4 linked regions of the Homo sapiens genome follow. The protein of the gene in region 3 purifies or fractionates together with the protein of the main gene of each other region. This does not show direct contact. Each region holds a gene or a part of one and is shown on either strand. Other genes may lie near its edges.

Region 1 (8,237 bases), about 17 Mb from region 3:
AGAAATTTGTTTAGTCAGTTCCTTTATTTAGTGGATGGAGAACCTCAGGCTCAAGAAGGCTGGATGACTTGCCCAGAGCCATACTATGCTGATTTCTTAACTGTTATCTGAATTTCTCACCTGTAGTGTGGTGCTGGTTCCCCTGGTAAATTGTTGAGTGTAGGTCAAAAGAAATTAGAGTTAGACTTGATGTTTGCCTTTGTTATAGCTACGGATTATTTTTTTTTAAAGTTCTTTAGCTTGGAAGTGAAAGTCTTTTATGGGTGTTTGTGCGGATTATTCCTAATTAATTGAATGTGCCGGGTGACTTTAATTTCTCTTCTTTAGGCTGCGATGGATAGTGCTCGGCTTAGTGCTGCCAAATCTTCTCCAATGATGGAAACAATCAACATGGTGAGTGTCTTAAATAATAATGAGAGGGTTTGTTTGCTTACCTGAAAGTGTAATTCTTCAAAGTCTTCAGGCTATGTTAAATGAAGCAGAGACTTATGGGATGAGTCAAGCAGCTGTTGTGACTCCAGTTTTTTCTTAGTATATTTCTCTTTTCTTCTCTGTTACTAAGTGGAATAAATAATTCCCCAAATACCAGAAACAGTTGGTCCAAATTTGTATTACAAGAGACAACAACATATCAAGAGCTCTCTATAAATTTACATCTGTAGTCTTTTGATCTGCCTATTTAGAAAGGTTCAGAGTTGTGCCTGTGCCTAATAGTTATCTTTGGGAGGAACTAGGAAAGTTATAAGCTGTGGAGGTATTTAATGAAGTAGGTAACATAAAGGTATGTGAAGAGATTGGGCAATGTCGATATGTTGTTTTAGTCATAGGAAGGCATTTGCAGTAAAGGGCTGCTTGGCATTCTGAGGTTCTGATTTCTAAACTTCCTGGAGTCTTGGTAAAGTTACTCTGTTGTGCATTCCCTGTAATGGTTAGTTAGCTATGATTGTGTTTACTGGAAATTAGTTTGCTAAGCAGATCTGTACCTTTAGCAGGACTCTGAAGGTATAGATCCAACCCCTAAAAAAACTGAAGTGTACAAAAAACTATGTTAAACTGGTGAAGAGAAGTAGCTATTTTTTAGTGCCTGCTGGGGGAGTATTACCAAAATTTGGTCTAAGAATGTTATGTCTTAGTTGGATTATTGGGGGGAAATAAAAATTTAAAGAAATAGGAATAGTTAGTGAATACCATTTAGTTATATTCATTAGTAATAGAAAACATGTTAATTGCATTTTCAAAAATAAAGGCCAGCAATTTATAGGAAAAGTCATCTAAGAAGTTGACTCATTAGAGGGGGTTTGGTAGGGTAGGCCCACTGTAGAAGATCAATATTTAGTTTAGGTTTTTTATACTAAACATGGATTGATAAAGAGGAAGTAGGCCCAGAAAGATTCTTCATTCTTGAGTAATCATTATTTTTCTTTTTTAGCAAATTGATGTTTTTCATTTTTTTGTTTGTTTTTAGTGTTGAATCACTGATGAATAATTTTTCTGTTTGTAGTACAATAGTGGTTTTAATATTGAAATCAGAGCAGAAGCAAGCAGTGATTTTTCAACTTCATGTCAAATCCAGTTGGTACACGTTTGACAAGGGCAGTTTTTAATTGAAGATGTGGTCCTGACTTATTTGCCAAGGCTTACCTTTATATTTGTCCTTTTTCAAAAGTGCCTGCAATACCTTGATGTGTCAGTGCTGGGCGAGCTAGTTCCTAGGTTGTGTGAACTGATCAGAAGTGGTGTAGGTCTTGGAACTAAGGTAAGTGTACTTTCCACAAGAGGAAATGTGCATCTTCATTAGTTCTGGCCATAAGGATATAACAGCCATCATGTTTGAAATTCATGTTTTACCACAAAATCTAATATTATACACTAACCATTTTATTTCTGTGGTTGCACTGATAACTGAAAACATGTAACTGGTTCAAGAAATAAAACATCTAACTGTTCCAGTAAGTATTAACTTATTTAGTGGAATCATTTCTGTTCTCTGGTTGCCGTGTACATACCCTCTGGGTTGTCATTCATTAGCAGTTCATGGAAATGCACATCCAGTTATTAGGGCATGGATTGTTTTAGGTGGCAATTGCATTTTTCACAGAGGGGTCAGCAGTGTTTGAATAGAAAAATGTCCTAGTTTTCAAGATCTTTGAAGGATCAGACACCCCCCTACCACCCTTTTAACAACAAATTAATAACTCACATTTTTTCTTATGACAAAATTAACACTTGCTGGTATTTTAAAATTTTAGCATTTATAGATTAGGAGAAAGTTAAAATAAAAATTGTCCAGAATTTTGCCATACAGAGATAACTGCTGTTAATATTTTGAAGTGTTTCCTTCCAGTCTTTTCTGCACATGTATCTTCTGCAGTGTCCTCTTCTAATGGCCGTATGATACTCCACTGTATGGATGTAACATCATTTATTTTACTCCATCAAGGAACATCTGATTTGTTTTCAGTTTTTGAAAAAAATAGTAAAGCACTGTGATGAGTGTCTTCAGGCACACCTGAAGATATTTGGTTAAATTTCTGGAAATGGAAATGTTAGCACAGTGATGGACAAGATGACATATTTTGCTTTTCCAGAAGATTGTACCAGTTTTCTTTCTTTTTCACAATGTCTGAGATCACCCATCTTTCTCTTGGAGGTTTAAAAAAAATCGCTGCATTACTAGTTTAAGAGTTTGCCTTTTTCTATATTGAGTCCTGGAGGGGGTATTAGGCTTCATGTATTTTATATGTTTAAATTTTTGGCACCTAAGCCAATGGTTTGGTAGGTAGAACATTGTGACCATCAGATTTAGACCTTTGCTTTTGTAACCCTGTAGGGTGGCTGTGCCAGTGTCATTGTGTCATTAACTACTCAGTGTCCTCAGGACCTAACACCTTACTCAGGTGAGTTTGTCAAGGGATGTGTGGTGATATTTTTGCACAGCCCTGTCTTGTGTGACAGAGTTTTAAAAAGGAAAAATACTTATCATTCAGACCTGCTTGTGATGCTGTGTGCCTTTTCTCCCCTCAGTCCCCTGACTCCTTCATTTCTTTGTCTGCAGGAGGTGCAGAGTTTATCAAGTTTAGCAGCTTTTCACTGTTCATAAACATTTGATTATTCCTTAGTGGTATAAGGAGGTAAAAGTATCCTCTTTTCCACAGGACTTACCATTGATAGCTGATTTTACATCAGCATTTTTCTCTTCTTAGATTGGCTTCTAGACTGGACTAGTGTTCTTTATATACCTCGTTCTTATTTTGCATCTTTTTCCACGATATTCTAGTTTAATTTTAACTTTATATCATGTAAAAGGAAGCAAATGGATATATAAATATAACATCCAGAAATCTAAACTACTGTGGAGTAAATCAGATGTTAATTACAGGGTTAGGTTTGTTTGGGTTCTGGGAACAGAGTGGAACATTTGGTCAACCAAGTATCAGATTTTTTTCTCTTTATTTCTGGTAGGTAAACTTATGAGTGCTTTGCTGAGTGGCCTGACAGATCGGAACAGTGTGATTCAGAAATCTTGTGCATTTGCTATGGGCCATTTAGTTCGGGTGAGTTAAATTTCTTGCTTAGTTAAATAAAACTCTTTGACAGTTATAAAGAAATACTTAGGATTGTTTCTTTTTCAGACCTCACGGGATAGCAGCACTGAAAAACTCCTGCAGAAGCTCAATGGGTGGTATATGGAGAAAGAAGGTACCTTTCTTTTTCTATTTTATGTCATTTTAAATTTAGATGTTAACAGCCCAGTAAAACAGTACAAATTAGGTCTTACCCTCCATGATTTTATGTGATTTGCTAGAAACATTTGTTTCTTTTCTTTTCTTTTTTTTTGAGATGGTGTCTGGCTTTGTCGCTGAGGTTGGAGTGCAGTGGTGCTATCTCAGCTCACTGCAACCTCAGCCTCCTGGGCTCAAGCGATTCTTGTGTCTCAGCCTCCTGAGTAGCTGGAACTACAGGCACGTGCCACCACGCCTGGTTAATTTTTGTATTTTTTGTATAGGTGGGGTTTCGCCATGTTGCCCAGGCTGGTCTTAAACTCCCGAGCTCAAGCTATCTGCTCACCTTGGCCTCTCAAAGTGCTGGGATTACAGGTGTAAGCCACCACAACCCAGCCTGCTAGAAACATTTCTAATTGATTTTACCTGTTTGTTTTGCTATTATATGAGTTGAACAATAGCCTGTTTAGATCAGTTACCCTTAAAAACAATAAATATCGTAAAGATTTTGGTTTCTCCTTTTCAGAACCTATCTACAAGACCTCTTGTGCTTTGACTATTCATGCTATTGGACGATACAGCCCTGATGTATTAAAGAATCATGCAAAAGAAGTCCTGCCTCTGGCATTTTTAGGCATGCATGAAATTGCTGATGAGGAGAAATCCGAAAAAGAAGAATGTAATTTATGGACCGAAGTGTGGCAGGAAAACGTACCTGGTTAGTAGTGTGGCCTGAGTTAAACCTGCTTCTTAGGAATCACAGCTAGAATTTTTTACTTGCATTCGTTATTCATAAACTCCTCTGAAGTTACTTTCCCAGGACCTTAATATGCATCCCATTTAGTTTTAAACCCATCCAAATTGCTCATCCCATTTAGTTTTGAACCCATCCAAATTGCTGAGTTCTCAAGGTTGGCACTCAGGATTTTTGTCTTTACTCATTCATCACTGCCCACATGAGAGAATATAAACCCTGTGAGCAAGGAGAGCTTTACATTTTTAATTAAGAGTGTGATTTTATGTGGCCTTAGAGTATTTTAGAGTAGTTTTCTAAATGTGTTTTTCACCTTGTCGCATATTAATTGATGATGCCCATTTGTGTGATACGTTCCTGTGGGCACCCAAGTTCGTAAAGTTCTACTATTGTGAGAATAAGTCACAACACCAACACACTTTCTCTCCCTTTGAGAGAGTGGTGTGTTTTAACAGTTGAGAGTCACTGCTTTTAGACTGTTGGTCACTGACTTTTTTTCAGGTTTAGAAAAATCAGTTAATTTTTCTTGTCACTTAAAAGTTGTTTTAATTTTGCTTTCCTAGGATCCTTTGGTGGCATTCGATTATACCTGCAGGAGTTAATTACTATTACCCAGAAGGCTTTGCAGTCTCAGTCCTGGAAAATGAAAGCCCAGGGTGCAATTGCCATGGCATCAATTGCAAAACAGACTAGCTCTCTAGTACCTCCATATCTCGGAATGATACTGACCGCATTGCTGCAAGGCCTGGCTGGAAGAACGTGGGCAGGAAAGGTAAAGGAACCATTCATACCCAGTTAAAGGGATTCTGACTTCATCTTTCATTTTGCATAATAGTAACGATCTGGTTTTGTGTAACTTTTCCAATGGATTATTTTTGTGAACTAGATTTCCTAGACAGTGGAAGCTTTGGGTAAACCTTGCCTGATTAACTGTGGTATTTCCTCTCAAACTGCAACCCGTGTGGCCTTGCATAATGGACAGTAATGCTGGAGATAGATACATTTTCCATATTCAGCCTTCCAAGTTACGTCTTAAACCAACTTGTCAGCATTTTGTACCTGTTGACCTCATGAACAGATCAGGATTGGGCATAGAAAGATCAGGATTGGGCATATGTGAAATAGAGTAGCAAGGTAGCCTGCCTCTAAACCTGGGGCTGAAGATGCCCATCTCTGGGACCTATGAATTAGTAACAGTTATTTTTTTACACAAGAGCTTTAGTAGGATTCTTAACAGTGAACACTCAGTGGGGAACATGAGATTGTGGTAACCTAATGATCTTTATGTTGTAAAGGTCAATAGTGGCCCATGCAGGAATGAAGTAGTACCGGACTGGGAGTCAGACATCATTCCAATTCTGTGGTTGACACTGTTTTCTGTGAGACCTGGGTCGAATCAGTTCTTTAGGCTTCTATGAAATGGAGGTGAAGATAATTATCCTACATCCATGGTTTGGAGTAAAACTTGGTGGATGTGCTTAAAATTATGCATTAAAGATAAGGTGACTGTTGTTAATTTTTGTTGTCATAGTTATCAAAAATTCCTAAGGTAATTGTAATCATGGTTTAGACAGTGTAAATGACATGTTTGGGCTTAATAGTATTTCCTCATCTTTCAACCCCTTAGGAGGAGCTATTGAAAGCCATTGCCTGTGTGGTGACAGCTTGCAGGTAAATGTTCTTTCAATGAAGATGCCATTTCTTAAACTGGACCCGAAAACTGCAGCCTTTATTAACTTCTGATGCTTTTGTATGGACCCTGTAGTGCAGAGCTGGAAAAGTCTGTGCCCAATCAACCCAGCACAAATGAAATTCTTCAAGCTGTTCTGAAGGAATGTAGCAAAGAGAATGTCAAATACAAGATTGTAGCAATCAGCTGTGCAGCTGATATCTTGAAGGCCACCAAAGAGGACAGATTCCAGGAGTTCTCTAACATTGTCATACCTCTCATCAAGAAGGTAATACCACCTGTATCCTCAGTTCTGGTTTATACTTTAAAAAGAAAAAGTTAAAAAATTGTTTTCCCCTATGTCCTGATTATTAGGATTAGTTTAGCTGCAAGTAGCAGAGAAATTCCAAAATACGGCCTTAAACAAGATAGTCAATGCTATGTTTCTCACAAAGCGTTGGGAGCATCACAAAGTGTTCAGGTATTCCGTCTCTTTACAGCTCTGAACTCTGCCATTTCTAGGGTGTGGTCATCATCCTCATGGTCCACAGTGTGTTTGTGTTCTAGGCAGGAATGCAGAGGAGATGAAGCAAGGATGAAGGATACAGTGGGCATGCCATGTCTCTCTTGAGGAGAGTTCCTGGGCACCGCTAGATGGCACTTTGACTTATAGCCATCCTGTTGGTCAGTACTTAGCCACACCTGGCAGCAGACTGAGTCTTCATTCTGGGTGTCCATTTGCCCTCCATGGGAGAAGGGGAGAGTGGATTTGGTAGTGAATGAACAGTTTATGTCATAATAAGCTTTGCCTTGGCTAATAAGCTAAGCCACCCCAGCCATCCTAGAGTAAAGGCAAGAAGCTCAGTGTGCCATGTGAATTGCCTCTGCCATATAGTGGAGGATTTGGGTCAAAAAAAGACTCAAGTTTCATGTGGAAAATGGAATACTCATTTTTAAAAGTTGGGCACTGGTCCCCCCCCCAAAAAAAAGGGTGTGGTTTCCCTGTTTATTTGTGAAACATGAAATATTTTAAGTAACATTCTTATTTCTTATTGCTCCTAAATTGCAGTTGTTTTCTTTCAGTAATAAGGCTATTTAAATAATTTCCATTACAAACATAGTGATAGCATATGGATTTGGGAGACTTGTGTTTTAAGTTGATTACATCACTAGCAAGCTGGACCAGTTGCTTCTCTTAGCCTCTGTTTCTCTATCAAGAAAGAGTTTGGATTTAGATCATTACTGAGTTTCTTCCATCTTTAAAATCTGATTCTAATGCAAGTCTTTTCATGTTATGCTCAAAAGACTACATATGCAGTATTTTTTAGCTTTTGTTTACAGATGCCTGTAAAGTATTGCCTAAATTTATTAGAGATACAGTATTCTGGTTATAAATTCTTGTTGTAAATAGGGAAACTTATGGTAGAGAATTTATCATTTAACTCTTGGTTAATATCTCCTGCCTTGGTTGGTACCCTGATAGCTTTAATAGTATACCTGTAACTTTGAAGAAGAAAATATTACATTTTCTTTTCTTTGATATATCCTAGAACTCACTTGAAAGCAGTGGGGTCCGGACAACCAAAAATGAAGAGGAGAATGAAAAGGAAAAGGAGCTCCAGCTGGAATATCTGCTGGGTGCCTTTGAAAGCCTGGGCAAAGCCTGGCCGCGAAACGCGGAGACCCAACGTAAGCACCAGAAACTGCATTTGAAGTGCTGTAACCAGAGGTTACTTAATGAGAGCGAAGAATTTTCTCTATGACAAATTATAGTTATTGTTTCTTATCGAGCCTGATTGATTAATAATGAGAATTATCCAGTGAAAGTTTTTTGTCTACATGAGTCTGTGATCTCACTGATCATTGTACCGCTGTAGCTAGGGCTGCTGTAAGAAAGTATCACAGACTGGGTGGCTTAGCAGAAATTTATTTTCTCACAATTCTGGAGGATAGAAGTCTGAGATTTCGAGATCAAGGCGTCAGCAGGGTTAGTTTCTCCTGAGACCTCTCTCCTTGGCTTGGGAATGGCTGTCTTCTCCCTGTGTCTTCACGTGGTCTTTGGTGTCTCTGTGCCCTAATCACCTCTTCCTAT
Region 2 (8,237 bases), on a different chromosome or scaffold from region 3:
GACCTCTAGAGACATCGGGGACAAACTCCAAATTTGGGAAAGGTCCATCCACATTTGCAATTGTTAGTTAGGCTTGGGAAGTGGAGTCATTGGTGGATGAGGCAACTTCCAATCACCATCTCGATTTTTATTTCCCTAACTTTTAAGATTATTTTCTATAGAAAATCAGTAGTGCTGAAGTTGGAGTCATTTAATTGATTTGTGCCAACCTAGGGAAGCATTTACTCTCGAGAAAAGTTTGGTAACCATTAATCTTACCTTAGCAACATTTCAGTTTAAGCTTATCTCTGACTTTCCAAAGACAACTAAAGATTTCTACAGTCTCTCTTATAACTGATCCATTTTTTCAAAAGATGTCCCTTTGGGAAGGAATTCTCATTTTTAGAATTTTAGTCCAGAGGAAGTATTTTTTTTTCAGATAGGTGAAATAGAATAAGCAGAAAATTCTTATTTTTTACTGTTTTATATACCATTGATGCCTGCTTATTTTAAAACAAAACACAATAAAAACATGATACCATCTGATGAGTTGCTTTGGTTTTACTTTTTTTTTTTTTTTTTTTTTTTTTTTTTTTTTAGTTTATACAAGTTTCTTATTAGGTCAGCAAATTGTAAAACACATAATTTGCCAAGGCTTTTGAAGCCAGCAGATACTGGGTGAAGTTGCTGTATGAATATAATAATAAGAACCGTTTTTGTTCAGCTTGATGAAAAAACTATTCATGTTCTAAATGAAAATGTGAAGATCATCTAATTCTGACAGAAAACCACCTGTGGACATGGTCTTGTTTCTTTTTATTTCTTCTGTTTTCTACAAAAGATGGCAATATTTATTTAAAGTGCTTTAACAGGATATCCCAGTTAAAGCTTTGACAGACTGTTTATAGTTCACTTCTGCCCAGGGGCAATTAAAGGCACATTACAGGATAAGCGAGATGACTCCCCGGCCACAGGAGGAGGATGTGTGGGTAGGATTATTAATGTTGAAATGAATTATGATAGAGTGACATGTCTGCAAGAGCACCATGGGTTAGTAACTTAACAAGAATTCATATGCAGAAACCCATAATTCTCAGCAGTTCTTTAGGGTAAATGAAACTAAAGTTTAGGGAGAGAGAACAAGGAGAATTTGCAAAGATATGTATGACAGTATTTAAAAATGTTCTTCCAGCACAAAGACATTAATCTTCCTTTGTCAAAATAATTCTTTCTGCATGAAAAGTTGGCATGGGGCTCCCAGGCTTCAGGTAAGATGGGAGAAAGGGAGCGTTTCTTTTTTTTTGTACCAAAGTACTCAATCTTCTGATCTTCCTTGACTTTCACGACATAGGCATATGTCTACTCTGACCAGTTTGTTTCATTTATTGTGGTAAGATGTGCTTGTCTTGTGCTTTCCTGGTGCAGAAAAGGAGCTGCCTCGCTCATGCTTGGTGGCCTTTTTGTTCCTACACACAGTGGTTCTCGTACATGGTGGCTACCACATCCTGGTGTTTGTCTATACTGGGAGAATCAGGCGTTCCAAGTCATCTTGGCTGCCCTAGCTCTGAGCTTCAGGGGATATATGACTCAGAAATGCTATGCTTTCTGGAATTTGGATATTTCATTTTTATTTGTTTCTTGGTAAATTCTCTTTTGACTTAGGAGAAGCTAACTATTTGGAAAGGTCTCTCAGAACTCTAATTACAAATATATGGTACCTTCTTTATATTGATCTCATTTTTAAATACCTAGTCCTGGAGGAAGAGCTAAATATGAATACAGTGATGAGCTGTGTAGGGGATCTCACAGGAACACAGTCAGATTTCAAGTTGAAAATAGATTCAGTTGATAATACTTAGTACTAGATTCTCCTGAATCGACTTTGGGAATTCTGAGTCAACCTAAGGACTATATTACAAAGGATCAGACCTTGACTTTTAGGCCAGGTGTAGTGGCTCATGCCTGTAATCCCAGCACTTTAGGAAGCCAAGGCAAGTGGATCACTTCAGTCCAGGAGGTTGAGACTAGCCTGTGCAACACAGCGAGACCCTGTCTCTACCAAAAATACAAAAATTAGCCAGGTGTAGTGTAGCACCTGCCTGTAGTCTGAGCTACTGAGGAGGCTGAGGTTGGAGAATCAACTTTAACCCCGGATATGGAGGCTGCAGTGAGCTGTGATCATGCCAGCCTGGGCAAGGAGCAAGACCCTCTCTCAAAAACGAAAACAAAAAAGACACAGAACTTGACTTTTAACAGGAGGCATAGTAATAGCAAGCATAAGATTGTTTTAACATAGCATTTAAGATAATTTACGCATTTAGAAAATTAATTCTGGCTGGTTGTAGTAGCTTATCCTTAATCCTAACCCTATGAGAGGCCAAGGCAGGAAGATCACCTGAGGCCAGGAGTTTGAGACCAGCCTAGGCAACATAGCGAGACCCCCGCTCTCTACAAAAAATTTTTTTTAAAAAACATAGCTGGGCATGGTGACACACTCCTGTAGTCCCAGCTACTCAGGAGGCTGAGGCGGGAGGCTTGCTTGAGGCCAGGAGTTTGAGGGAGCTGTGATCACGCCCCTGCACTCCAGCCTGGGCAACAGAATGAGGCCCTATATCTAAAAAAAAGAAAAATGGACAAGAAAATTCTATATTGATTGAAGCCCAGCTAAATAGAAAAAAAAAAATTCTAATAGGCCATTTTAAAGACTTTGGAAAAATTCTTAGCTAGAGTAAAACAGAAGCAATCCTTTCTTTCCTGGTTCTCACATCTCCATTCTCACCTTCATTCCCCTTCCCCTCCATTTGTTTCAAGTATTTTTCTTTTCTATGTGTGTCTTTATGTAAATTTAAATTTACCTACAAGATATTATGATATTAAGATATTTCATTCTGCTTCCTGTTTTGTCACTTGTTCTTTAAGATCCAAGTCCTTGGCTCCATGTGCATCTAATCCTTGCCATAAGCCCTGCATCGTACTTCATATTCACCATATTGAACTATTCACCCTCAAGTAGTCACTATTAAATGTCACACTGTTGTAGCGACTACAAATGCAAGCTCAGTAACTGAAAAGATAACATTAAATTTTGTTTTTTAATTGGTTTCCTGTGTCAATTTCATGTTTCGGGAATTTGTATGGACAGATAGACACCAGAGAGATATGCGTATTTCACCTGCATGCTTGAGGCTAGAGAAACATGATTTATTCAGAACTATTTCAAATACTGTAACTAACCTGGTAATTTTGTTTAGGAAAACATTAAATTCGGAATAGAAGGCAATTCAGAATACCTGTCTGTTATCTTTGTCTTGTCATTTTTGAGATACTCAGTTCCTGGAAAATATTATGATAATCCATCTTGCTATGTAGTATTTCAAGTTATATGTTGAGCCTCTGAGCTTGCAGAGTGAACATTTCTATTCATAGACAGTGCTGTTGACATCAGTGGGGAGATGGCACAAGCTTTGTGCCCTAGGAAAGTTTAAAAGCTAGAACATTACACTGCAAACCCTATGTCAGGAAACTTTGTTGCAGCAACTAGGCAAGGAAACCCTACCACTGTACCCATACCTTGTTTTAGTAGAATTATGTTTCTTTGCTAAGAAGTCTGGTGACTCTCACACCCCATCTCAGCACTTTCCTGGATTCCAAGGCCCTGGTGCCCTGAGCACACAACTTCCCAGGTTCCTTTTATTGTTTCTGATAAGAACTCGAATTAGAGGCAGCGTCTGGTACTCACCAGGGGTGTGGTCCCATGGGTGACATTCTTGCTCCATCATTTCTTACCCAGGTAACCTTGAGTATGGCGCCTAAATCCTCTCTTCCTTTCAAATTGCCTGGTCTGTAAAATGGATGCAGTGAATGGTAGCTATGCCACAGGTGTTTTGTGTGAGAATTAAATGAGAGGAGTTATATCAATAACACTTAGAGGCATGCGGTGCCTATAGTGAGGGCTTGTTTTATGTTGTCGTTTAACCCTTTCTTTCTCAGCCCTCCCCCACTCCACATCCCCTCCCACTGGCAATGTACAAATTGCAGCTTCCTGCCTCTTTCCTGCTATCTCGCTCCCTGGATGACATCCCTGCGTTTCCACCTCTCTCTCCCCTAATCTTAGCTGTTTTCACCCTTTCCCCACAGCATTGCCTTGACAGTTCCTCAGTGTCCCATCCCCTCTTCCCATGGACAACACCACAAACCTGCGCACACGGCCTGTTATTATTCCTCCTGTTTCACCTGTGTCCATTCTGTCTCATAAAGGACACTGTAGGCTCTGAACAGCTAAGGCCTTTCTTATTCTTTTGTCCCATGGAAAATAATCCCTCCAGATAGCAATACCAGGAATAGTGCCTTTTCTAACCCACTGGTTTCCTTTTGAGCTTACAGCCACCAAATCTTATATCTGTTTGTTTCTGTTCCCCTCTCTGCATTGACTGCTAGAGAGATCAGAGTCAAGCAGGAGGTTACATCTAGCTGGGGCACTGTGCTTTATGCTGGTGTTTCGTGTGCAAATCTCATACCATCTTCATGTTACAGTTGTTCCTTAGTGTCCATGGGGGATTTGTTTCAGAACCCGCAAGGACACCAAAGTCCAGGGATGCTCAAGTCCCTGATATAAAATAGCATTGTGTTTGCATATAATCTACACACATCTTACCATATAATTTTTTTTATTATTTGTATACATTCGTGGGGTACAAGTGTAATTTTGTTACATGGATGTATTGCATAGTGGTCAAAGTCGAGGCTGTGAGTGTATTTATCGTTGGAATAATGTACATTGTACCCGTTCATTCCTGTATACTTTAAGTCATCTCTAGATTACTTATAATAGCTAATACAATGTAAATGCTATGGAAATAGTTGTTATATTGTTAGGGGATAATGACAAGGAAAACACCTATACATGTTCAATACACAGCAATTATTTTTTTCTGAATATTTTTGATCTGCCATTGATTGAATCTATGGATGTGGAACCCACAGATATGGGACCCACAGATGCAGAGGGCCAACTGTGTTTATTTTTTCCAAATTTGTTTCCCTGTTATGACTCTTCTTTATACACATTTTTAAACTCTGTTGTCTTGTATTTCTTTTCTAATCATCTTACGTCCTTTTGGAAACCAAGTGGGGCATAAATAGTACATGTTTGCATTTGAGGCAACACAGAGGCATCGCAGGAGCTGGAGACAGCAAAGTTCAAAGCCAGTCCACCACTTACCTACAGAGTGGCCTTGGGCAAGTTACCTCCATTTTCTGTCTCCATTCTCGAGCCTGTCTAGAGAGAGAATGAACCTGCCTCCCGAGGTGATGGTGCTGTTTTAATGAAATAATGCATGTGAAATGTGAAGTGCCACTGTCCCTGGCATGGAGATGCTGTCCTTAGATATTAGGTCCATCTTGTATCTTCTAGTGTATCTTTAAAAATTAAACTATACTGGCTTCATGCCTGTAATCTCAGCACTTTGGGAGGCCAAGACCGGCAGATCACTTGAGTCCAGGAGTTCAAGACCAACCTGGGCAACATGGTGAAACCCTGTCTCTACAGAAAATACAAAAATTAGTGGGGCTTGGTGGCACGTGCCTGTAGTCCCAGCTGCTTGGGTAGCTGAGGTAGGAGGATCACTTGAGCCCAGGAGGCTGAGGCTACAGTGAGCTGTGATTGCACCAATACCGATCAGCCTGGTATGACAGAGCATGACTCTGTCTCAAAAAAAAAAGGAAAAAAATTAAACTATACTGATAAATATTTCTAAAGTAATTGATGAAAACATATATATGACACTTAGCAGGTGTTGATCAATTCCAGTGCGTGCATGAGCTGCTTTGCACTGTGGCTACAGCACTCAGCAGTTTGCTTAGTGAGTAGATGGCCATAGCTCACTTTAGGTATCTGGAGAATAATGCTCATTCCTGTCTCCAGCTTTGTAAAATTGCCTAATAGACGGAAGGCATTAAAATATGAAGATGGGATTATATCTTATGAAGCTGCTTGGAATGGGTTTTCCCTCTTAACAAATAATTTCTGATCATCCATATCCCTTAAGAACACCGGATTTCTGGGGGCCAGGGAGGTAAGATTCTATCTGACAAAGCCTTCCTGGTGTCAACCACTTGCCATCTGTTGGTCAGTGCTGGCCCTGCTGGGTCTATAGAATGAGCTTCTTTGTCTGACGCTCCTGTTGCCATCCCTTTCTCCATCAGCCTTGTAGCAGTACCTGGGAACCTGCATCCTGTGGAAAGATGGAGGAGCAGATGACATCTTCCAGTCAAGCTCGTAAATACGTGAATGCATTCTCAGCCCGGACGCTGGTCATGTGAGACATTTCCAGAAAAGCATTATGGTTTTCAGAACACTTCAAGTTGACTTGGGATATATCATTCCTCAACATGAAACTTTTCATGAATGGGAGAAGAACCTATTTTTGTTGTGGTACAACAGTTGAGAGCAGCACCAAGTGCATTTAGTTGAATGAAGTCTTCTTGGATTTCACCCAACTAAAAGGATTTTTAAAAATAAATAACAGTCTTACCTAAATTATTAGGTAATGAATTGTAGCCAGTTGTTAATATCTTAATGCAGATTTTTTTAAAAAAAACATAAAATGATTTATCTGTATTTTAAAGGATCCAACAGATCAGTATTTTTTCCTGTGATGGGTTTTTTGAAATTTGACACATTAAAAGGTACTCCAGTATTTCACTTTTCTCGATCACTAAACATATGCATATATTTTTAAAAATCAGTAAAAGCATTACTCTAAGTGTAGACTTAATACCATGTGACATTTAATCCAGATTGTAAATGCTCATTTATGGTTAATGACATTGAAGGTACATTTATTGTACCAAACCATTTTATGAGTTTTCTGTTAGCTTGCTTTAAAAATTATTACTGTAAGAAATAGTTTTATAAAAAATTATATTTTTATTCAGTAATTTAATTTTGTAAATGCCAAATGAAAAACGTTTTTTGCTGCTATGGTCTTAGCCTGTAGACATGCTGCTAGTATCAGAGGGGCAGTAGAGCTTGGACAGAAAGAAAAGAAACTTGGTGTTAGGTAATTGACTATGCACTAGTATTTCAGACTTTTTAATTTTATATATATATACATTTTTTTTCCTTCTGCAATACATTTGAAAACTTGTTTGGGAGACTCTGCATTTTTTATTGTGGTTTTTTTGTTATTGTTGGTTTATACAAGCATGCGTTGCACTTCTTTTTTGGGAGATGTGTGTTGTTGATGTTCTATGTTTTGTTTTGAGTGTAGCCTGACTGTTTTATAATTTGGGAGTTCTGCATTTGATCCGCATCCCCTGTGGTTTCTAAGTGTATGGTCTCAGAACTGTTGCATGGATCCTGTGTTTGCAACTGGGGAGACAGAAACTGTGGTTGATAGCCAGTCACTGCCTTAAGAACATTTGATGCAAGATGGCCAGCACTGAACTTTTGAGATATGACGGTGTACTTACTGCCTTGTAGCAAAATAAAGATGTGCCCTTATTTTACCTACTTTTGTTTTCTCTCTTATTTGTCACTATGGACAACAGTTACACTTTAAAGAAAATGGAGCAGACTCAAGGCACTTTCCTCTAATAATTGCACACCATATGCACTTCGTGTGAAGAAGCCAGGAATCATTACAATGGAAAAGAAAGAACAAGCAAACTGAGTTAAATAGTTCACAAACAATCACATGGACAATGGGGAGGAATCTTCCAGAATGCATCAGTCAGGGTCTAGCGGCATTTGAGTGCGGATGCTGTAAGGGGAATTCGTTCACAAATGTACTGATACCACAGATGTGGGCAGGGGCTAGGAGAGCAACAGGGTGCAGGCCTGAAGGCACCTGGAAGGCCGCCTGGAGGGGGACAGTCAGGAAAGCAGGAGCCCTTGAGAGGAGCACTAGCCTTTGATGAGACCACTGCCATCGAAGGAGACCTCACAGGGAGGGAGCCAAGGGTAAACCCTAACTTTGTTTCCCCATTTCTCCTATCTCTGCCTAGGGGTCCTCACTGGCAGAACCAACCAGAAGCTGGAGGACAAGGGAGCTCCCATATGGGAGCCGGCCTGTGAGCCTTCAAGGGTATGCGGAGTCGTTTGTTCAAAATAGCCCCATTTCACAGATGAATCTCTACTGGCTCCATCTTCAGCTTAGTGTTCTCTTCACTATGCTGTAATATCCCTTTTAACATAAATTCCTTTAAATTTCCTTTACTCACTCTGTTCCAATTCTGAATTCTCATGGGCATGATAC
Region 3 (7,000 bases):
TCCTTGTCAAAGTGTCTGCAGCACAAAGCCGAGGGCGGCTCAGCAGGCAGCCCTGCTGCCGAACACCCCCCACCCAGCCAGGGCGAGTAAGGCTGAACTCACTTAAACATCATGCTGAATTCTTTGAGGGCCTCCTCAGTCACACCTGTTGTGTTCCTGGAAGAAAAACAGAAATTAGGGAACAGACCCTCCACACAGCAGGTGACTGTGTCTTTTCCTCCCCCTGCTCTGGGCTGAGCCTGGCCCACAGCCCTCCCGGGTACCTGGCCTGGATCTGCTGCTCCAGGTTGTGCTGCATGCGCATGCCCAGCTGGTCCAGCTGGTCCCACTGCTGGGCGAGGCCCACGGTGCTGTGCTCCGTGTACTTGTTGTCCAGGATGAGGGCCTCCTCCATGGCGGCCCCCAGGTCCTCGATCTTTTTGAGCTGACTTCTCATGGCTCGGATTTCCTGGTGCTTGCGCTGCAGGGGTGGGGAGCACAGATGCTCAGACGGGGGCCCTCAGCTCAGTCACCAGCCCAGGAGCCACTTACTGCCCTCTGGTTCCTGCTCCAGGCCTGGCCTGAGACCTCGTAAAACAAGAACATTCTAGAATAGGAATAGTGGGATGGGGTGAAGCTGAAGAAATCCCAACCACCTCAATAGAGGGAGAGACTTTCAATGTGAGGGTTCCAAAGCAGCTGGTAGACCTGCCAGAGGGCAGTGCACGCCAAGGACAAGTACGGCGAGGACTCCAGGAAGCAGTGGCCAAAGATTTTTATAAATTTTTTTGAGATGGAGTCTCACTGTCGCCTAGGCTAGAGTGCAGTGGCGCAATCACGCTCACTGCAACCTCCCGGGTTCAAGTGATTCTCCTGCCTCAATCTCCTGAGTAGCTGGAACTAACAGGTGCCCATCACCACACCTGCCTAATTTTTGTATTTTTAGTAGAGGCGATGTTTCACTGCATTGACCAGGCTGGTCTTGAATTCCTAGGCTCAAGTGATCTGCCTGTCTTGGCCTCCCAAAGTTCTGGGATTATAGGCATGAGCCACTGCACCCAGCCTTATTTTTAAGACAAGGTCTTGCTATATATTGCCCATGCTGGACTTTGAGCAGGTGTAGGCCACCATGCCCAAGTAATTTTTTTCAGAGGGAGTTTTGCTCTTGTCACCCAGGCTGGAGTGCAATGGCCTGATCTCGGGTCACTGCAACCTCCGCATCCCAGAATCAAGTGATTCTCCTGCCTCAGCCTCCTGAGTAGCTGGGATTACAGGTGCCTGCCACCACACCCAGCTAATATTTTGTATTTTTAGTAGAGATGGGGTTTCCCCATGTTGGCCAGGCTGGTCTCGAACTCCTGACTTCAAGCAATCCACCCGCCTCGGCTTCCCAAAGTGCTGGGATTACAGGTGTAAGTCACCACACCCAGCCCCAAAGACTTTCTTTAAAGTGAAGAGCCCTCGGCCGGGAGTGGTGGCTCATGCTTGTAATCCCAGCACTTTGGGAGGCTGAGGTGGACAGATCACTGGAGATCAGGAGTTCCAGACCGGCCTGGCCAACAAGGCAAAACACTGTCTCTACTAAAAATATAAAAACTAGGCCAGATGTGGTGGCTCACGCTTGTAATCCCAGCACTTTGGGAGGCCGAGGCGGGCAGATCAGCCGAGGTCAGGAGTTCGAGACCAGCCTGCCTGGCCAACATGGTGAAACCCTGTCTCTACTAAAAATACAAAAATTACCCAGGTGTGGTGGTGGGCGCCTGTAATCCCAGCTACTTGGGAGGTTGAGGCAGGAGGATCACTTGAACCCAGGAGGTGGAGGTTGCAGTGAGCCAAGACCACGTCCATTGCACTCCAGCCTGGGCAACAAGAGTGAAACTCCATCTCAAAAGATAATTAAAAATAAACAAAAATTAGCCAAATGTGGTGGCACACATCTGTAGTACAGCTATTTGGGAGGCTGAGGCAGGAGAATTGCTTGACCTGGGAGGTGGAGGTTGCAGTGAGCCAATATCGCACCACTGCACTCCAGCCTGGGCGAGAGAGAGATTCCATGAAGAAAGAAAGAAAAGAGAGAGAGATAGTGAAGAGCCCTAGACTGCTTTAGGCCAAGGGAAAAGGGTACAATAATAGCACATCTGGTTCCTGACTTTAAGCCAGGAAGGGAAGGGGTACCCTGGGGGGTGGCTGGGTGAAGGGTCTCTGCTGGGCCAGAGCCCCACGGGCACTTACTTTGGTAGCTTCAAGCTGGGATTCGAGGGTCCCCGACTCTTCCACCATACAGGACCTAAACGTGGAAGGACAGTGAGGAAAGGGGCCTGCTCCCAGCTGGCCGAGAGCTCAGAATGAACCTTCTCTCAGAGAGAGCAATGCCTGGCAACCTCACATTCCTTTTAAGGAAACCAAACCTAACTGCAACTGGCCATCTTTACCTAATGGGCCCCAGGGATCGAGGGATGGCAGGGAGCATTTCTCCCGTTTTAGAGATGGGAAGCTGCTGCCTTGGTGTGGGCCAGGGCTGAGCCCACTCGTCTTGCTCCCAAGGCCAGGATGACTCAGGAATGGAGTTTAAATTCCCCCATGGGTGCAGGGTGGCTGCAGGCCTGTCTGAGCATCCTCTCTGCAGCCATGTGGGGGATGGCACACCCTGACACCTGACAGACAGGAGACCTCAGGGCAGAGGGGAGGCTGAGAACCTGACAGCCTCCCCACAGAAACCCTGGAGTGTCCCGGCAAGGTTCCTGAGGGAGGGAGCCCCATTCTAGGGGGAATGAGAGCACGACCCTGCAGACAAAGGACACAAGTGGAGTGCTGGGAGATCACGACCAACTGTGCCAAAAGGAGAGAGATGGCTGTGACTAAACCCCAGATCCCGGTTCCATCCTCTAGACACAGCCAGGGAGGGAGCCTCCTCTCTAGGACCAAGTTCTGAGAGCAGATGGGCTCTGGGGAGCCTCCTTCCCAAGAGAACACAGTGCCAGGTCACAGAGGCTACCAGTAAACAAAGACAACAAACGAGTTAGGGTTACGTGCAGGGACGAATCACACGGTGCGTGTGGCCTTGGTGGGGTTTTAGCCCAGGCTCCCCTGTACCCACATTCACCCCAACCTACCCTTTTAAAACCCGGCGAGCCAGGGTTAGCTCTGCAATCTCCCCAGGTTCAAAGTGCTCTAGCAAGGCAAGGCACCAGGCTTCCTCCTACCCCAGCAGGTCAGACTCACAGTCACGCCATGTCCCCCCGGGGAAAATGCCCCCCAGGACCTGGGGGCAGGAGGCTGGGTGCCGGTGCAGTGGGAGGACAGACCCCTCCTTCCCAAGCAGCCGAGGGCGGCAGGTTAGTCAGGGTGGAGCCGCCTGGGGATGTCAAGAGTGCATCAGTAAAGCCACAGTGAGGTAAGAAGAGAAATAAGGAGAAAAACCTTCCAGACAGATCATCCCCAACTTCATACTGATAGACACGAATGACCCGACGATATGCTATGCTATTCAAAGAAAAGAAACCAAATGAATACACCAAAGGGAGGGGAGGCAAGAGCACACTGCAACAGACACACACAAAGCCCAAGCTGGCAGGGCGCAGGCAAGGGCAACCTGGTGCCCGGCGGGTACCTGGAGGCAGCAGGCCCAGTGGTTCACCCCAGGCAGCTCACACTAGGAATGGGCAAGATGGGCAGGGCTTGGGAGGAGCCATAAGGTGAGGGGAGCGTGGCACCTCACGGAGACAAGAGCAAGACCAGCAGACACAGGCATGGGGCAGGGAGGGGAGTCAGGTGGCCAGGGTGTCCTACGGGCACAGGCCGGAAACTGCGATCCCTACGTCCCCAGCTGCTCTGCCATCAGAATGTGTGGCCCGGCTGGATGGGTCTATTTCTCCCCTGGCCGCCTATACAGGCTTGATGTGCCTGGGTGCAGAGCCTCAGGAGTGCAGGCCAAGCCACTCCAGTCCCAGCAGCCCTGGCTTTCACAGCAGGCTTGGCAGATTACAAAGGTGACCCGGCCAGGCAGAGGCCCCAGGCCAAGCAGAGAAGTCCCTGCCGGGACTGGGCGGGACAGCCCAGCCCTGCTCCTCCCTGGGGCTCCTCCCACGTCCTGTCTATCACATAACGGGTGCATTTTTGCCTTCTATTAGGGCGGACAGTCTTGTTACCCTCCCTGACCCCAGGAAAGTAAAGTGGCAGCCTCAGCTACTTAGGGGGTGTCAGTGCCCAGCCCTTCTCAGCTGTGGACTTACTGTACCCTGCCTGAGCCCCCAGCACTGCCATCTGCTTCATGCCCACTGACCACTGTTGGACTCGCTGGGGAAGCAGAGGTGAGAGCCCAACAGAGCCCGGTGGCTGGACAGGCACGGGGGTTCTTAGGGCCTCTGGACTCCAGCTCTGGCCTTCGTGCTTCATCACCTTCCCTACCCAAAGTGAGCCCTTGGAATCGCCCAGTGAGGCAAGGACGGCTCCCCCTGGCTTGAAGGCTCTATCGGGGACCAGGGACCATGGGCTATGGGGCAAGGCACACACTCCTCATCAGGTGACGAGAAGGGTGGGAGGGGAAGTGCAGCCCGCCCTGGGCAGGAAGGCCCATCCCGGGATCCTCCACAAGCCAGGCCACGAGGGGCAAGCGCACGAGACCCCCACATGACAAGCCCAGAGAAGGAAGAAAACAATATTAACCCATCGAGGAGGTATGTCCTGTGGAGAGCAGATCCAAGCAGCCGGGAGACAAGGTGGTGTCCGGACAACAGCAGCAATCGGGGGGACAGAGAGAAGACACAAGAAAGAAAGGAAAACAAAAGCAAGAACATCAGTACCCAACGCACAGACCCTGCATCGTCTGTCACCAAGTCATGGCTGGGGCTGACCACGCGCCCTGCATGGTCCCACTCAATCCGGGATCTCTAACAACTTGATGTCTGGGACATGCAGCACTGAGAGGCTGCTCCACCTATGCCCCCACTCCCGGCTCCAGAGCCCGACCAGGCGTTGCCAGCCCAGCTTTATTCCCAGGCTGCCTCTGGTTTTACACAAAGCACCACCACCTCCTTGGGGCTGGAAGCTCCCCAGGGCTTAAGTACAGCAGGGACATGCTGCTGCTCCCCGGCCCCAGCGGGCTGGCACCTGGTCTCTTGGATCCACTGGTGGAAGGCGTTGGCGTGCTGGGCAAACTCCTGGCGCAGCTTGTCGTTCTCCTCCTGCCGCCGCTGTTCCTTCTGCAGCTCCAGCTCCCTCTCCTGAGGGCCAAAGGGGGGCAGATGCTGTGCGCTGCTGTGGCAGTGACACCAGCCCCTCCTTCACAGATGGGCTCAGGGTGGTGGTGGCCTCCCCACAAGGAACCTCCCCAAAGATGAGAGGAGGAGGCTGGGAGACATGAGGCCGGCTCAGAGCACTTGGTAGTTCTTTCTCTGTTCCCACCCCCCAGGGGCTTCAAGGAAGAGGCGGACCTGGAGGGAAGCGACTGGTCAGTCAAGCAGGGAGTTGCTGGACTGTCAGAAATGGAAACTTCTGGCTGGGTACAGTGGCTCACACCTGTAATCCCAGCACTTTGGGAGGCCTGGGCAGGAGGACTGCTTGAGGCCAGGAGTTGAAGACCAGCCTGGGCAACATAGCAACACCCTGTCTACAAAAATTAAAATAATTAGCCAGGCGTGGTGGCACGTGCTTGTAGTCCCAGTTATTCAAGAGGCTCAGGCAAGAGGATCACCTGAGCCTGGGAGGTTGAGGCTACAGGGAGCCATGGTAGCACCACTGCACTGAAGCCTGGGTGACAGAGACCCTGCCTCAAGAACACAAAAAGAAATGAAACTTCTGATGAAACCATGCTCCTCCATCCTGCTCGTCTTGTCGTGACTCAGTTAAGTGTGGGCTCTGAGCAGGGCCCAGAGAGGGCTCTGGGAGGCCGAGCAGCTCCTGAGGGCAGCGGGAGGTGTACCTTGATGATTTTCTGTAGGTTCCTCCAGGTCTCCTCCAGGGCCTCCATGGTAAACCAGGTGTAGGGGTTGGAGGCTACGCGGAAGCTCTTGATCTGGCGGTCCAGCTCGGCCAGCTGGTTGAAGTCAGCCTGGGCAGAGCTGAGGGAGGAGCGGAAGGCGTCGTGGGCCTCGCGCAAAGCTTTGATTTCTTCCAAGGAGTTGCAGCGCACGGGGTCTGTTAAGTCCTCCTCTGCATTTTCAAACCAGCTGTTGAAGGCAGAAGCCTTTTTGGCGAAGGTCAGGAAGAGGTCCTCCACCTGGAAGCAGAAGAGACTGAGTTGGCGGAGTCGCCAGGGCTGGACGTGCCGACGCAGTGCAGGAGGTGGGGTGCGGGGTGGTTCCTGGGAATCAGAGGCGCACACAGCCTGCTGGGAGCTTAGCTCCCCTCTGCTCCTGTCTCCTGCTCCCCCTTCAAGTCTTCACCAGCCTTTTTTCCCCTTCCTACCCTTTGCCCTTGTCTCTAGTCTGTCCTGCGTGCTTCTGAATGGCGATCTCACAGGGCCCTCTCATTTGCCCTGGTTTTAATTGATGCCAGCCACACCCATGTTTGAAAGCTCTGCACTGAGCTCACAGCTTCCTCAAGGGGGAGTGGCAGAGCTGGGCAGACAGAAGGTGGGCGTCCTTCCTTGAGCTGTGGGCCAGCTAAGCTTCACGTGGCCCCATCCTCACCTTGCGGAAGTGACTCTGAGCCTCCAGAAGCTTCTTCTTGCGGGCGGCTGAGTTGGCCAGAAGCTGGCTCCACCTCTTCATGAGGGAGGCGTGCCGGGCCTCGATGGCCTTGGACTGAACGTGTTTGGCGGCGAGAAGCTGATCTTTGAGGGCAGTGATGTTGGCAATGCCTTCCTGCTGGAAGGCCTGCAGCCCAGCGTCAAAAGTTTCCTGAACAAGGAGTGACAAGCCAATTTGTGGTGACTCCACAGGACTGGAACTTGCTCTTCCTAGGCTCAGATGGCACCAGCATGTCCCCCAGATGCCCAAGCCAAACTGTCCACCTGGACACTGCTGAGACTCAGTCACACATGCCCCCTTTCCTGCTCTCCTTCAGACCGCAGATCACTGCG
Region 4 (8,237 bases), on a different chromosome or scaffold from region 3:
TATAAAAAGAAAACACGATTCTGTCATTTTGTCAAACAGTAACTTCAACAATGAGTTAATTAGTAAGGTACTTGACTTTAAAGAGGACAGAACTGGAAGAACAGGGTATGAACCAAATTAAATGGTCAAATTCACTGCTAGATAAGGTGGGTCTTTCAAATTTACAGCACTATCTAGCTGTCATAATCACAATTTTTAAACATCAAGTATTGGATTACTTCAAGCTTTTAAAATAGACACATAAGCTTAGAAACAGAAGAAAATCTGTCATTTTCCTTCTGCATCTGTCCCACTTCTGCCCACATTCAGCTCTCATACATGAAAGCATAAGGGGCTCAAAAAAAGGGTCAGTGGGGCTGGGCATGGTGGCCCATGCCTGTAATCCCAGCACTTTAGGAGGCCAAGGCGGGTGGATCACCTGAGGTCAGGAGTTGGAGACCAGCCTGGCCAACATGGTGAAGCCCTGTGTAAAAATACAAAAATCAGCAGGCGTGCTTGCGTGCACCTGTAATCCCAGCTACTCAGGAGGCTGAGGCAGGAGAATCTCTTGAACCCAAGAGGTGGAGGAGCCAAGATCATGCCACTGCACTCCGACCTGGGCAACAGAGCAAGACTCAAAAAAAAAAAAAAGGCTACAAAGAGACCTTAGAGCCTATTCTCTTTAGCATTAAAACTGTTGGTGCTCATTAGTGCTCCTTCACTCATCCAAATTACATATTCATCCACATGCAAGATAGTTTTAATAACTGTGGTGAGAAAAGACTAATTTTCAAAACTACTTTTAGCAGGCCCTGAACATATGTTTCAAGATGTGACATCCATCCCACTGCCGCCTGCACGCTCCCAGACCATGCCTTCCTCTAGTATCATCTCACAACCCATCATGGCCTCCAGCTCCTTGATGCAGAGCTAGGGAAGGCCCACACTACAGAGCTCCCGAAAGCCCCAGCCCTAAATTTCAGAAATCTCTGCTATGAATACTTCATGTTTACTTTTAAACATATTTCAAAATAAGGCTTCATGCTATTTTTCATGTAAAGTATTAGCATTTGTTCATTCATTTATTTGCAGGGAAAAATATTCCCTTAATATCTGAGTCCAGGCTCTTATCTCCTTCTTTCAGTAAGCTTTTTATTAAGTTAATGACCGAAAGAATATCCACCATTTTCATCCAATTGCTCCAACTTCTTCACAAATTTGGCTAGGGCAGAGAATAATAATAACTCATCCTCAGAACCACTGTGATAAAAGGAACATGCTTTTCAAAAAAGCCCTGGCCCTCTAAAGAAGGGTTAATGAAGCAAATCTTTAAACTACTAAGGGTACCTAACTCTTCCTCCTCCTATTTTAATTTTTATTTTATTTTATGAATTTAAGTAAAAAGGACATAAACCCTTATTCCATGAAGACGTAATGAATCCAAACAAAAACTAAGGAGCTATGACAATTGCAAGAGAATCTAGCAATCCACAAAGCCTTGCTAGAAAAAAAAGGGTCTATTTTATTACCTGTTCAGAAGTGTTCTTCAAGCGGATAAATTTCCCATCAACATCAATTTCTTCGATGCAAACATTTCCAGTGGCTGAGGCGGAATGAGAGATGCTAACACTACTACTCGCCTCTGATTCTTCCACATCAACCCTCTTCCGCTTTCCTCTAGTTGTACGTACACTACGACTTGAGGATGCTCGGGATACTGTCACACGGGAAGAAGGGCTTGGAGACAGCTTCAACCTATATGGGAAAAATAAAACAATTCATTTTTAAAACACATATGCCCTTCTCGCCTTAAAAAAAAAAAAAACAAAAAAACAAGGGCTGGGCACAGAGGCTCATGTCTGTAACCCAACAGCACTTTGGGAGGCCAAGGCAGGTGGATTGCTTGAGGTCAGGAGTTCAAGATCAGCCTGACCAACATGGTGAAACCCCGTCTCTACTAAAAATACAAAAATTAGCCAGGCGTGGTGGTGGGCGCCTGTAATACTAGCTACTCAGGAGGCTGAGGCAGGAGAATGGCTTGAACCCGGGAGGCAGAGGCTGCAGTGAGCTGAGATCACACCACTGCACTCTAGCCTGGGTGACAGAGTGAAAACCTGTCTCAAAATAATAATAATAAGAAGAAGAATATCCCACCCATGCATTTCTAAAGCAAAATATTACTTACAATCTGTTAGCCAAAGCCAAAGTTTACCTTAACTAATGTAAACTTCTTCATAAGGTGCCCATCGTCAATTTTCTTTTTTAAAAAATAACAATCTGAATGTTTTCTCTAGGGATGGAAGTAATATAACCATAATGCAAGAAGTCTGGTAAATGGGTAGAAAGTCATCTGATCTACCACCACCCACCACAGCCACTGTTATAGTTGGTGTACTTTTTTCTCTTTTCGTACCTGTACTTTCTTATGATCACAACGGATATAATATTAAAATTATCTGGCTTTTTATCCTAAATCAGCCACTTTCCTTTTGGAACTTTTTTTTTCTTTTTCTTTTTTTTGTGAGACAGAGTTTCACTCTTGTCACCCAGGCTGGAGTGCAATGGCACAATCTTGGCTCACTGCAAACTCCACCTCCCAGGTTCAAGCAATTCTGTCTCAGCCTCCCAAGTAGCTGGGATTACAGGTGCCTGCCACCATGCCCAGCTAATTTTTGTATTTTCATTAGAGACGGAGTTTCACCATGTTGACCAGGCTGGTCTTGAACTCCTGACCTCATGTGATCCGCCTGCCTTGGCCTCCCAAAGTGCCGGGATTACAGGCATGAGGCAATGCACCTGGCCCTTTTGGAACTCTTTTCTGAGAACAGGTGTCAAAAATATTTATACATTGACCAGATTTAAAATATATATAAAGCCAGCCGGGCGTGGTGGCTCACACCTGTAATCCTAGCACTTTGGGAGGCTGAGGCGGGTGGGTCACTTGCAGTCAGGAGTTTGAGACCAGCCTGGCCAACATGGTGAAACCTCTTCTCTACTAAAAACAAAATTAGCCGGGTGTGGTGACACACGCCTGTAATCCCAGTTACTCAGGAGGCTGAGGTAGGCAAATCGCTTGAAACCAGGAGGTGAAGGTTGCAGTGAGCCGAGAATCACACCACTGCACTCTAGCCTGGGCAACAGGCTGAGACTCTGTCTCAAAAATAAATAAATAAATAAATAAATAAATAAATAAATAAATAAATAATATGTAAAGTCTCTTTCAGCCAGTTTGGCATTTTACAATATATTAAATCACCAAAACACTTAAAATCTCAAAGGAACTAATCCATCCTGATGCAGTTCAGCATTTAAAGTAATAATAATAAATAAACTAAGAGTACTTGAGCAACATTTTCTGCGATGAGGTAGAAATATGATCTATTACTACTTCTATACCTAGGTGTTCAAAGAAATGACCAAGAAAATAAAGTTCTTTTTAAAATGCTATTTATTTTTATTTCAATAAAAAGGGTGAGAGGCAAAAAGTGGACCATAAGGTAGGGTGACCCTTAAGTTCCTTACCTCTCTTCTTCGCCTTCTAAGAGTTTCCTGTAAGCACTGATTTCCATGTCCAGGGCTAACTTTACATCAAGAAGCTGTTCATAGTCATTCAGCTGTTGCTGCATTTGATCCCTTATTTCCGCCATCTCTCTCTCTTTGTCTGTCAGCATGCGACGAGAGTTGTCTTTTTCTTTAGCAAGCAAGTCCTCTAATTCTTGAATCCTTTCCAAACATGCTCTAGACTTAAGATGCAAGGAAACATATTTACTTTCTAGGAACATTCCAACATTAGCACCAGGCAGCTATTTTAAATCATTTCCTAGACTGGAAAACAGTACAACCCTATGGAATCTCTAACTCACTAGAATTCAAGAGATTTTAAGAAATTAAAACCCAAAATTCCTCAAATACAAAACACAGACCTCAGGATAGTTTTGGCTGATAAAAGAATAAAAGACATATTCCACAAATGTAAGTTCTGTAAATATACATATAATTTTTCTGTACTTAGCCAAAAAAATGTTAAGATGTGGTTTTGGTAAAAGTCAAGTCTGGCTCCCTTACAAAGCCTTTACTTCCAAAAGTATAAATTAAATAAAGAACTTAAAAAGATAAGAACACTGGGTGGGTGTGGTGGCTTACGCCTGTAATCCCAACACTTTGGGAGGCCGGGGCAGGTGGATCACCTGAGGTCAGGAGTTTGAGACCAGCCTGACTAACATGGCGAAACCCCGTCTCTACTAAAAATACAAAAAAAATTAGCAGGTTGTAGTGGTGGGCGCCTGTAATCCCAGCTACTTGGGAGGCTGAGGCAGGACAATCGCTTGAACCCCGGAGGCAGAGGTTGCAGTGAGCCAAGATCACGCCATTGCACTCCAACCTGGGCAACAGAGCGAGACTCTGTCTCAAAAAAAAAAAAAAAAAGATATAAACACTGACTGACAAAATAAACCTAAGAGTGGGTAAAAGTACGTTTTAGCAGACTGCTGAGGAATATTCAGAAACCAAGGCAAAGGGACTCTGGTTACTATGTGGAAGGCACTACCTAGTGTCCCTTTAGGATTGCTGGGCTATCTCATGTTCAGTTAGCACACAAAGGACACACAATATAGGGTGATTTGTAAAGTATTACTGTGAATATAGAAGCTGTATATTTGGCATAAAAAAATTAAAAATCACACATCCTACACCAGAAAGTTCATCTTAGAAACCTTGTGGCTCGCTGGGTAATTATTCTTCTGTGTTTCTCCATGACAGAATTCATCTCAGTAGCCTCAGAAAGTGACAACTCAAAAAGACTGATGGATAGCTTAGGCCCTCAGAATCACAAGTACCTGCAACAGAGCAGGAGAGAAAGGGCATCTAATGTGCAAAAACTAAATCTAGAAGGCTAGAGATAAAAAGGAGCTACCAAATACATAAAAACTGTACTCTTGCTGGTAAATTTACTTTTCACAGCAGTACAGGTTCAAAATTTTGAAACTGCTTTAACATATACTGGGGCTGAACAGATAAGTAAATGGATGATAAAAACCAGGTTTCTCACTCTGAGAGAGAAAAGATACAGGTATGTCAGAAAGGAAGCCAAAATTGAATGCTGTCCTACTAGATTCAAGTCAGAGACATCTGTATGAATTCATGTTTATCTTAACACAAATGATTAGACAGAAAAAGTTATAAATATGTGCATACACATGGGTTAGCATACATAAAATGTTACCCACTTTTATCGGTGAGAGGGCCAAGAAGCAGTGATACCCAGTACCAGTGAGCACACTCAGTGCCCAGATCTTAATTTCTATATACCATTCTCCAATAACAAGAACCAGGGCTCCTTGGAGACTGGATAATTCTAGGACTGGGGCAGGGAAAATGCAAGATGAGCCTAGAGCATGTTATAGTACCAGAAAGCAACAAAGTGCTCAAAAAACAATGGGACATAGTGGCCAAGCTGACAGAACTCCCAGTGGCCAAATATGAAACAATTTAAGCCAAAAAAGTAAATACTGCAGTATTAGCTTACAACCCAAAGTATAAAGTAAATGCCCATGGTCCATACGGACACAAACAAACAAACAAACAAACCAAACAAACGGGGAATGGATAAATCGTTACAGAAGAATGCCATTTAATAAATGTAGATTTCCCTCCAGAATGTGGCGCTTAAGTCCTGCCCTGTCCTTCACCCTTGAGGGTAGGCTGGACTTAGTGAGCTGTTTTCCATGAACAGTGTATGGGAACGGAAAAATAGTAGCGCTGTTGACAGTGGAGAAACCTGACAAACACTATCTTAAACCAAACACCACCAGTGATGTCATGTGGTTATCACATACGTGCAATCCCTGATACGATGTGACAAAACGGGCACTTAAAACCCAAAACCCCAGTCTAATCACGTGAAAAGCACCGGACAAATCCAAATTGGGGGACAGTCTACAGGATACCTGGACAATCTTACTCAAGACTCAAGCTCATAAAAAACAAGGAAAGCCCAAGAAACTGTCACAGACCAGGGGAGGCATGTGGCACCTGGAACAGAAAGAAGATAACAGAAGAACTGGTGAAATCCAAATAGTCTGGAGACGAGTTCACAGTAATATACCAATGTCAGTTTCTTAGTTTTGACAAATATACTATGGTAACATAAGATGCTAACAACAGGGGAAAATGGGTGAGAGGAAAACAAGAACTGTCTATAGTACTTTGCCAACTTTTCTGTAAATCTAAAATTATGCCAAAATAACAAGGTTATTTAAAAAATAATCAAGAGTCACTGTAAACCTATTTGGGGGCAGAGGGGGTGCCTGGTTCACACGCACACACAAAAATATATTTTTAAAGAAAAAAAATTGACCAATCAATTAATTAAATTCCAGAGTAGTATATGACTTGACATGCTATTTAGACAGGCACTCCTCTTAAGATGGATATTACAAAGGTAGTCCCTGAACCTCAGAGAACTTGCATTTAACTGCGTTTGCAAAAATCATGCTATAAATGGAGAAATCCATTTCCCCGCTACCATGTTCCTTGTATTTTCTTTTTCTCCAAAAGAAAAAAAAAAAGTCATGTAAGTTCAAAATGCCTCCCTTTATTTCATATATCAGAGGTAGAAGATATATTTGAATGGGCAAAAAGGTAGAATCTAAAGGAGAGTTGATGAGAGATATAAACTACCCAAGATTCACAGATAACCTGAGCCGAGATTTATAAACCCAATGATGTCTCTGTTTGACTGCCTTTGATGTTGTAGAGCTCTTTAAGAGGGAAAAATCAAAATCTAGGTATAAAAATTTTAAAGTTACTCTGAATCATTCTGTATTTTAAATAGAAATATTTAAATTCTATTTTCAGTAGCTGCACTTACACCTGTGTAGTGAAATATAAGGAACACAGTATGAGAAGTTAGACCTAGATTCTCCTTTCTAATTCTGCCATTGAAACTACCTATGAGGCTATAAGCAAGCTGTAACTAATCTCACTAAACCAGTTTCCACATAAGGAAAATGAAGAGCTCTAACTATCTAGATGATCTCTCAGATCTTGCCACTAACCCTAAATTTTATGACTTCTGATGATCTTGGGGTTTTTAAATATTTTATAGTATGTAATGTAATTGTACTGGTTTATTAAGGTCTAGCTGCAACCAAAGTCTCCAGAATCTGGGTGTTAGAAAAACAAAAGTTAGAGGTGTTTTTAAGTACCATACTGTACTCTTCTCTAAGGCAAGCAGACTCTAACCAACCAATTCATTTGGTCCCAAGTCAAAAATCTAGAGATGCTATAAGCAATGTAAAATTTCTAATTCCAAAACATAACACTGCTACCATCTATATATTATTTAAATATATCTTGTAAAACCAGTATTTTAAAGCCATGTCAATTTTAAGTAAAATTTAAGAAGTACTTCACTAACCTGAGTTATTTAACCAAAAGGAAATTCTTATGGCCTAATAGGCAGCATGATGAAACTGATATGACTCAGCAACAAACACTATTAAGACAAACAATAGGAAAATATTCAAAAAGATAACATTTTTATTTTTGATGATTTTTCTAAGGCTAAAATTTATCAACTAATAAAAATATTCCTCAAAATATACTGTTTACCATAAAGTCTGTTACCAATAATGAACAGAGGAAAGATTCACCCCAGAGAAATTAAAAACTATTTTGGCTAAAGGGATTGCTCGTCTCCTATCTGCTAAGGAGTTAGCTCCTGGAAACCCCCAGTGCACTGCCTAACATTACTTAAAAACCACTAAGATAAGGTTAACAAAAAAAACTTGCAGCCAGGCACAGTGGCTTACACCTGTAATCCCAGCATTTAAGGCAGCAGCTCACGCCTGTAATCCCTTCCATTTTGGGAGGCCAAGGTAGGCAGAGTACCTGAAGTCAGGAGTTTGAAACCAACCTGGCTAACATGGTGCACCCCATTTCTACTAAAAATACAAAGAATTAGCTGGGCGTGGTAGCGCGTGCCTGTAATCCCAGCTACTCAGGAGGCTGAGGCAGGAGAATCACTTGAACCTGGGAAGCAGAAGTTGCAGTGAGCTGAGATAGTGCCATTGCACTCCAGCTTGGGCAACAAAAGCAAAATTCTGTCTCAAAAAAAAAAAAAAACCAACTTGCAAAAATGGGAATTCAATTAACAGGGAAACAGCCTTGAACCTAGGTTAGAACACATAGCTACTAAGTTTCAGAGCCCACTACTACTTATTAATAACAGTCTCCTCATCCAAAGCACAGTGAAGATC

The links.
Region 1: the proteins of SPTAN1 (region 3) and ECPAS fractionate together in Homo sapiens (co-fractionation; 2 studies listed by BioGRID). This does not show direct contact.
Region 2: the proteins of SPTAN1 (region 3) and MYB purify together in Homo sapiens (co-immunoprecipitation; 2 studies listed by IntAct). This does not show direct contact.
Region 4: the proteins of SPTAN1 (region 3) and LMNB1 purify together in Homo sapiens (affinity purification with western blotting; 2 studies listed by BioGRID, with this or other methods). This does not show direct contact.

Annotation. Positions count from the first base shown.
Region 1 is NC_000009.12:111,368,632-111,376,868, reverse strand, and holds part of ECPAS (proteasome adapter and scaffold protein ECM29), read left to right. Parts: intron 1-327; coding exon 328-393; intron 394-1,666; coding exon 1,667-1,756; intron 1,757-2,830; coding exon 2,831-2,897; intron 2,898-3,462; coding exon 3,463-3,554; intron 3,555-3,632; coding exon 3,633-3,699; intron 3,700-4,248; coding exon 4,249-4,440; intron 4,441-5,039; coding exon 5,040-5,248; intron 5,249-6,103; coding exon 6,104-6,147; intron 6,148-6,241; coding exon 6,242-6,434; intron 6,435-7,695; coding exon 7,696-7,834; intron 7,835-8,237. UniProt on the Homo sapiens protein: Adapter/scaffolding protein that binds to the 26S proteasome, motor proteins and other compartment specific proteins. May couple the proteasome to different compartments including endosome, endoplasmic reticulum and centrosome.
Region 2 is NC_000006.12:135,211,681-135,219,917, forward strand, and holds the end of MYB (transcriptional activator Myb), read left to right. Parts: intron 1-3,718; exon of another isoform or gene 3,719-3,820; intron 3,821-5,200; exon of another isoform or gene 5,201-6,183; coding exon 6,184-6,300; 3' UTR 6,301-7,492; downstream 7,493-8,237. UniProt on the Homo sapiens protein: Transcriptional activator; DNA-binding protein that specifically recognize the sequence 5'-YAAC[GT]G-3'. Plays an important role in the control of proliferation and differentiation of hematopoietic progenitor cells.
Region 3 is NC_000009.12:128,625,587-128,632,586, reverse strand, and holds part of SPTAN1 (spectrin alpha chain, non-erythrocytic 1), read right to left. Parts: intron 6,819-7,000; coding exon 6,609-6,818; intron 6,197-6,608; coding exon 5,900-6,196; intron 5,584-5,899; coding exon of another isoform or gene 5,497-5,583; intron 5,202-5,496; coding exon 5,089-5,201; intron 4,663-5,088; coding exon 4,645-4,662; intron 3,463-4,644; coding exon of another isoform or gene 3,400-3,462; intron 2,267-3,399; coding exon 2,212-2,266; intron 461-2,211; coding exon 264-460; intron 157-263; coding exon 103-156; intron 16-102; coding exon 1-15. UniProt on the Homo sapiens protein: Fodrin, which seems to be involved in secretion, interacts with calmodulin in a calcium-dependent manner and is thus candidate for the calcium-dependent movement of the cytoskeleton at the membrane.
Region 4 is NC_000005.10:126,814,407-126,822,643, reverse strand, and holds part of LMNB1 (lamin-B1), read right to left. Parts: intron 7,475-8,237; exon of another isoform or gene 7,397-7,474; intron 6,010-7,396; exon of another isoform or gene 3,723-6,009; coding exon 3,502-3,722; intron 1,735-3,501; coding exon 1,509-1,734; intron 1-1,508. UniProt on the Homo sapiens protein: Lamins are intermediate filament proteins that assemble into a filamentous meshwork, and which constitute the major components of the nuclear lamina, a fibrous layer on the nucleoplasmic side of the inner nuclear membrane.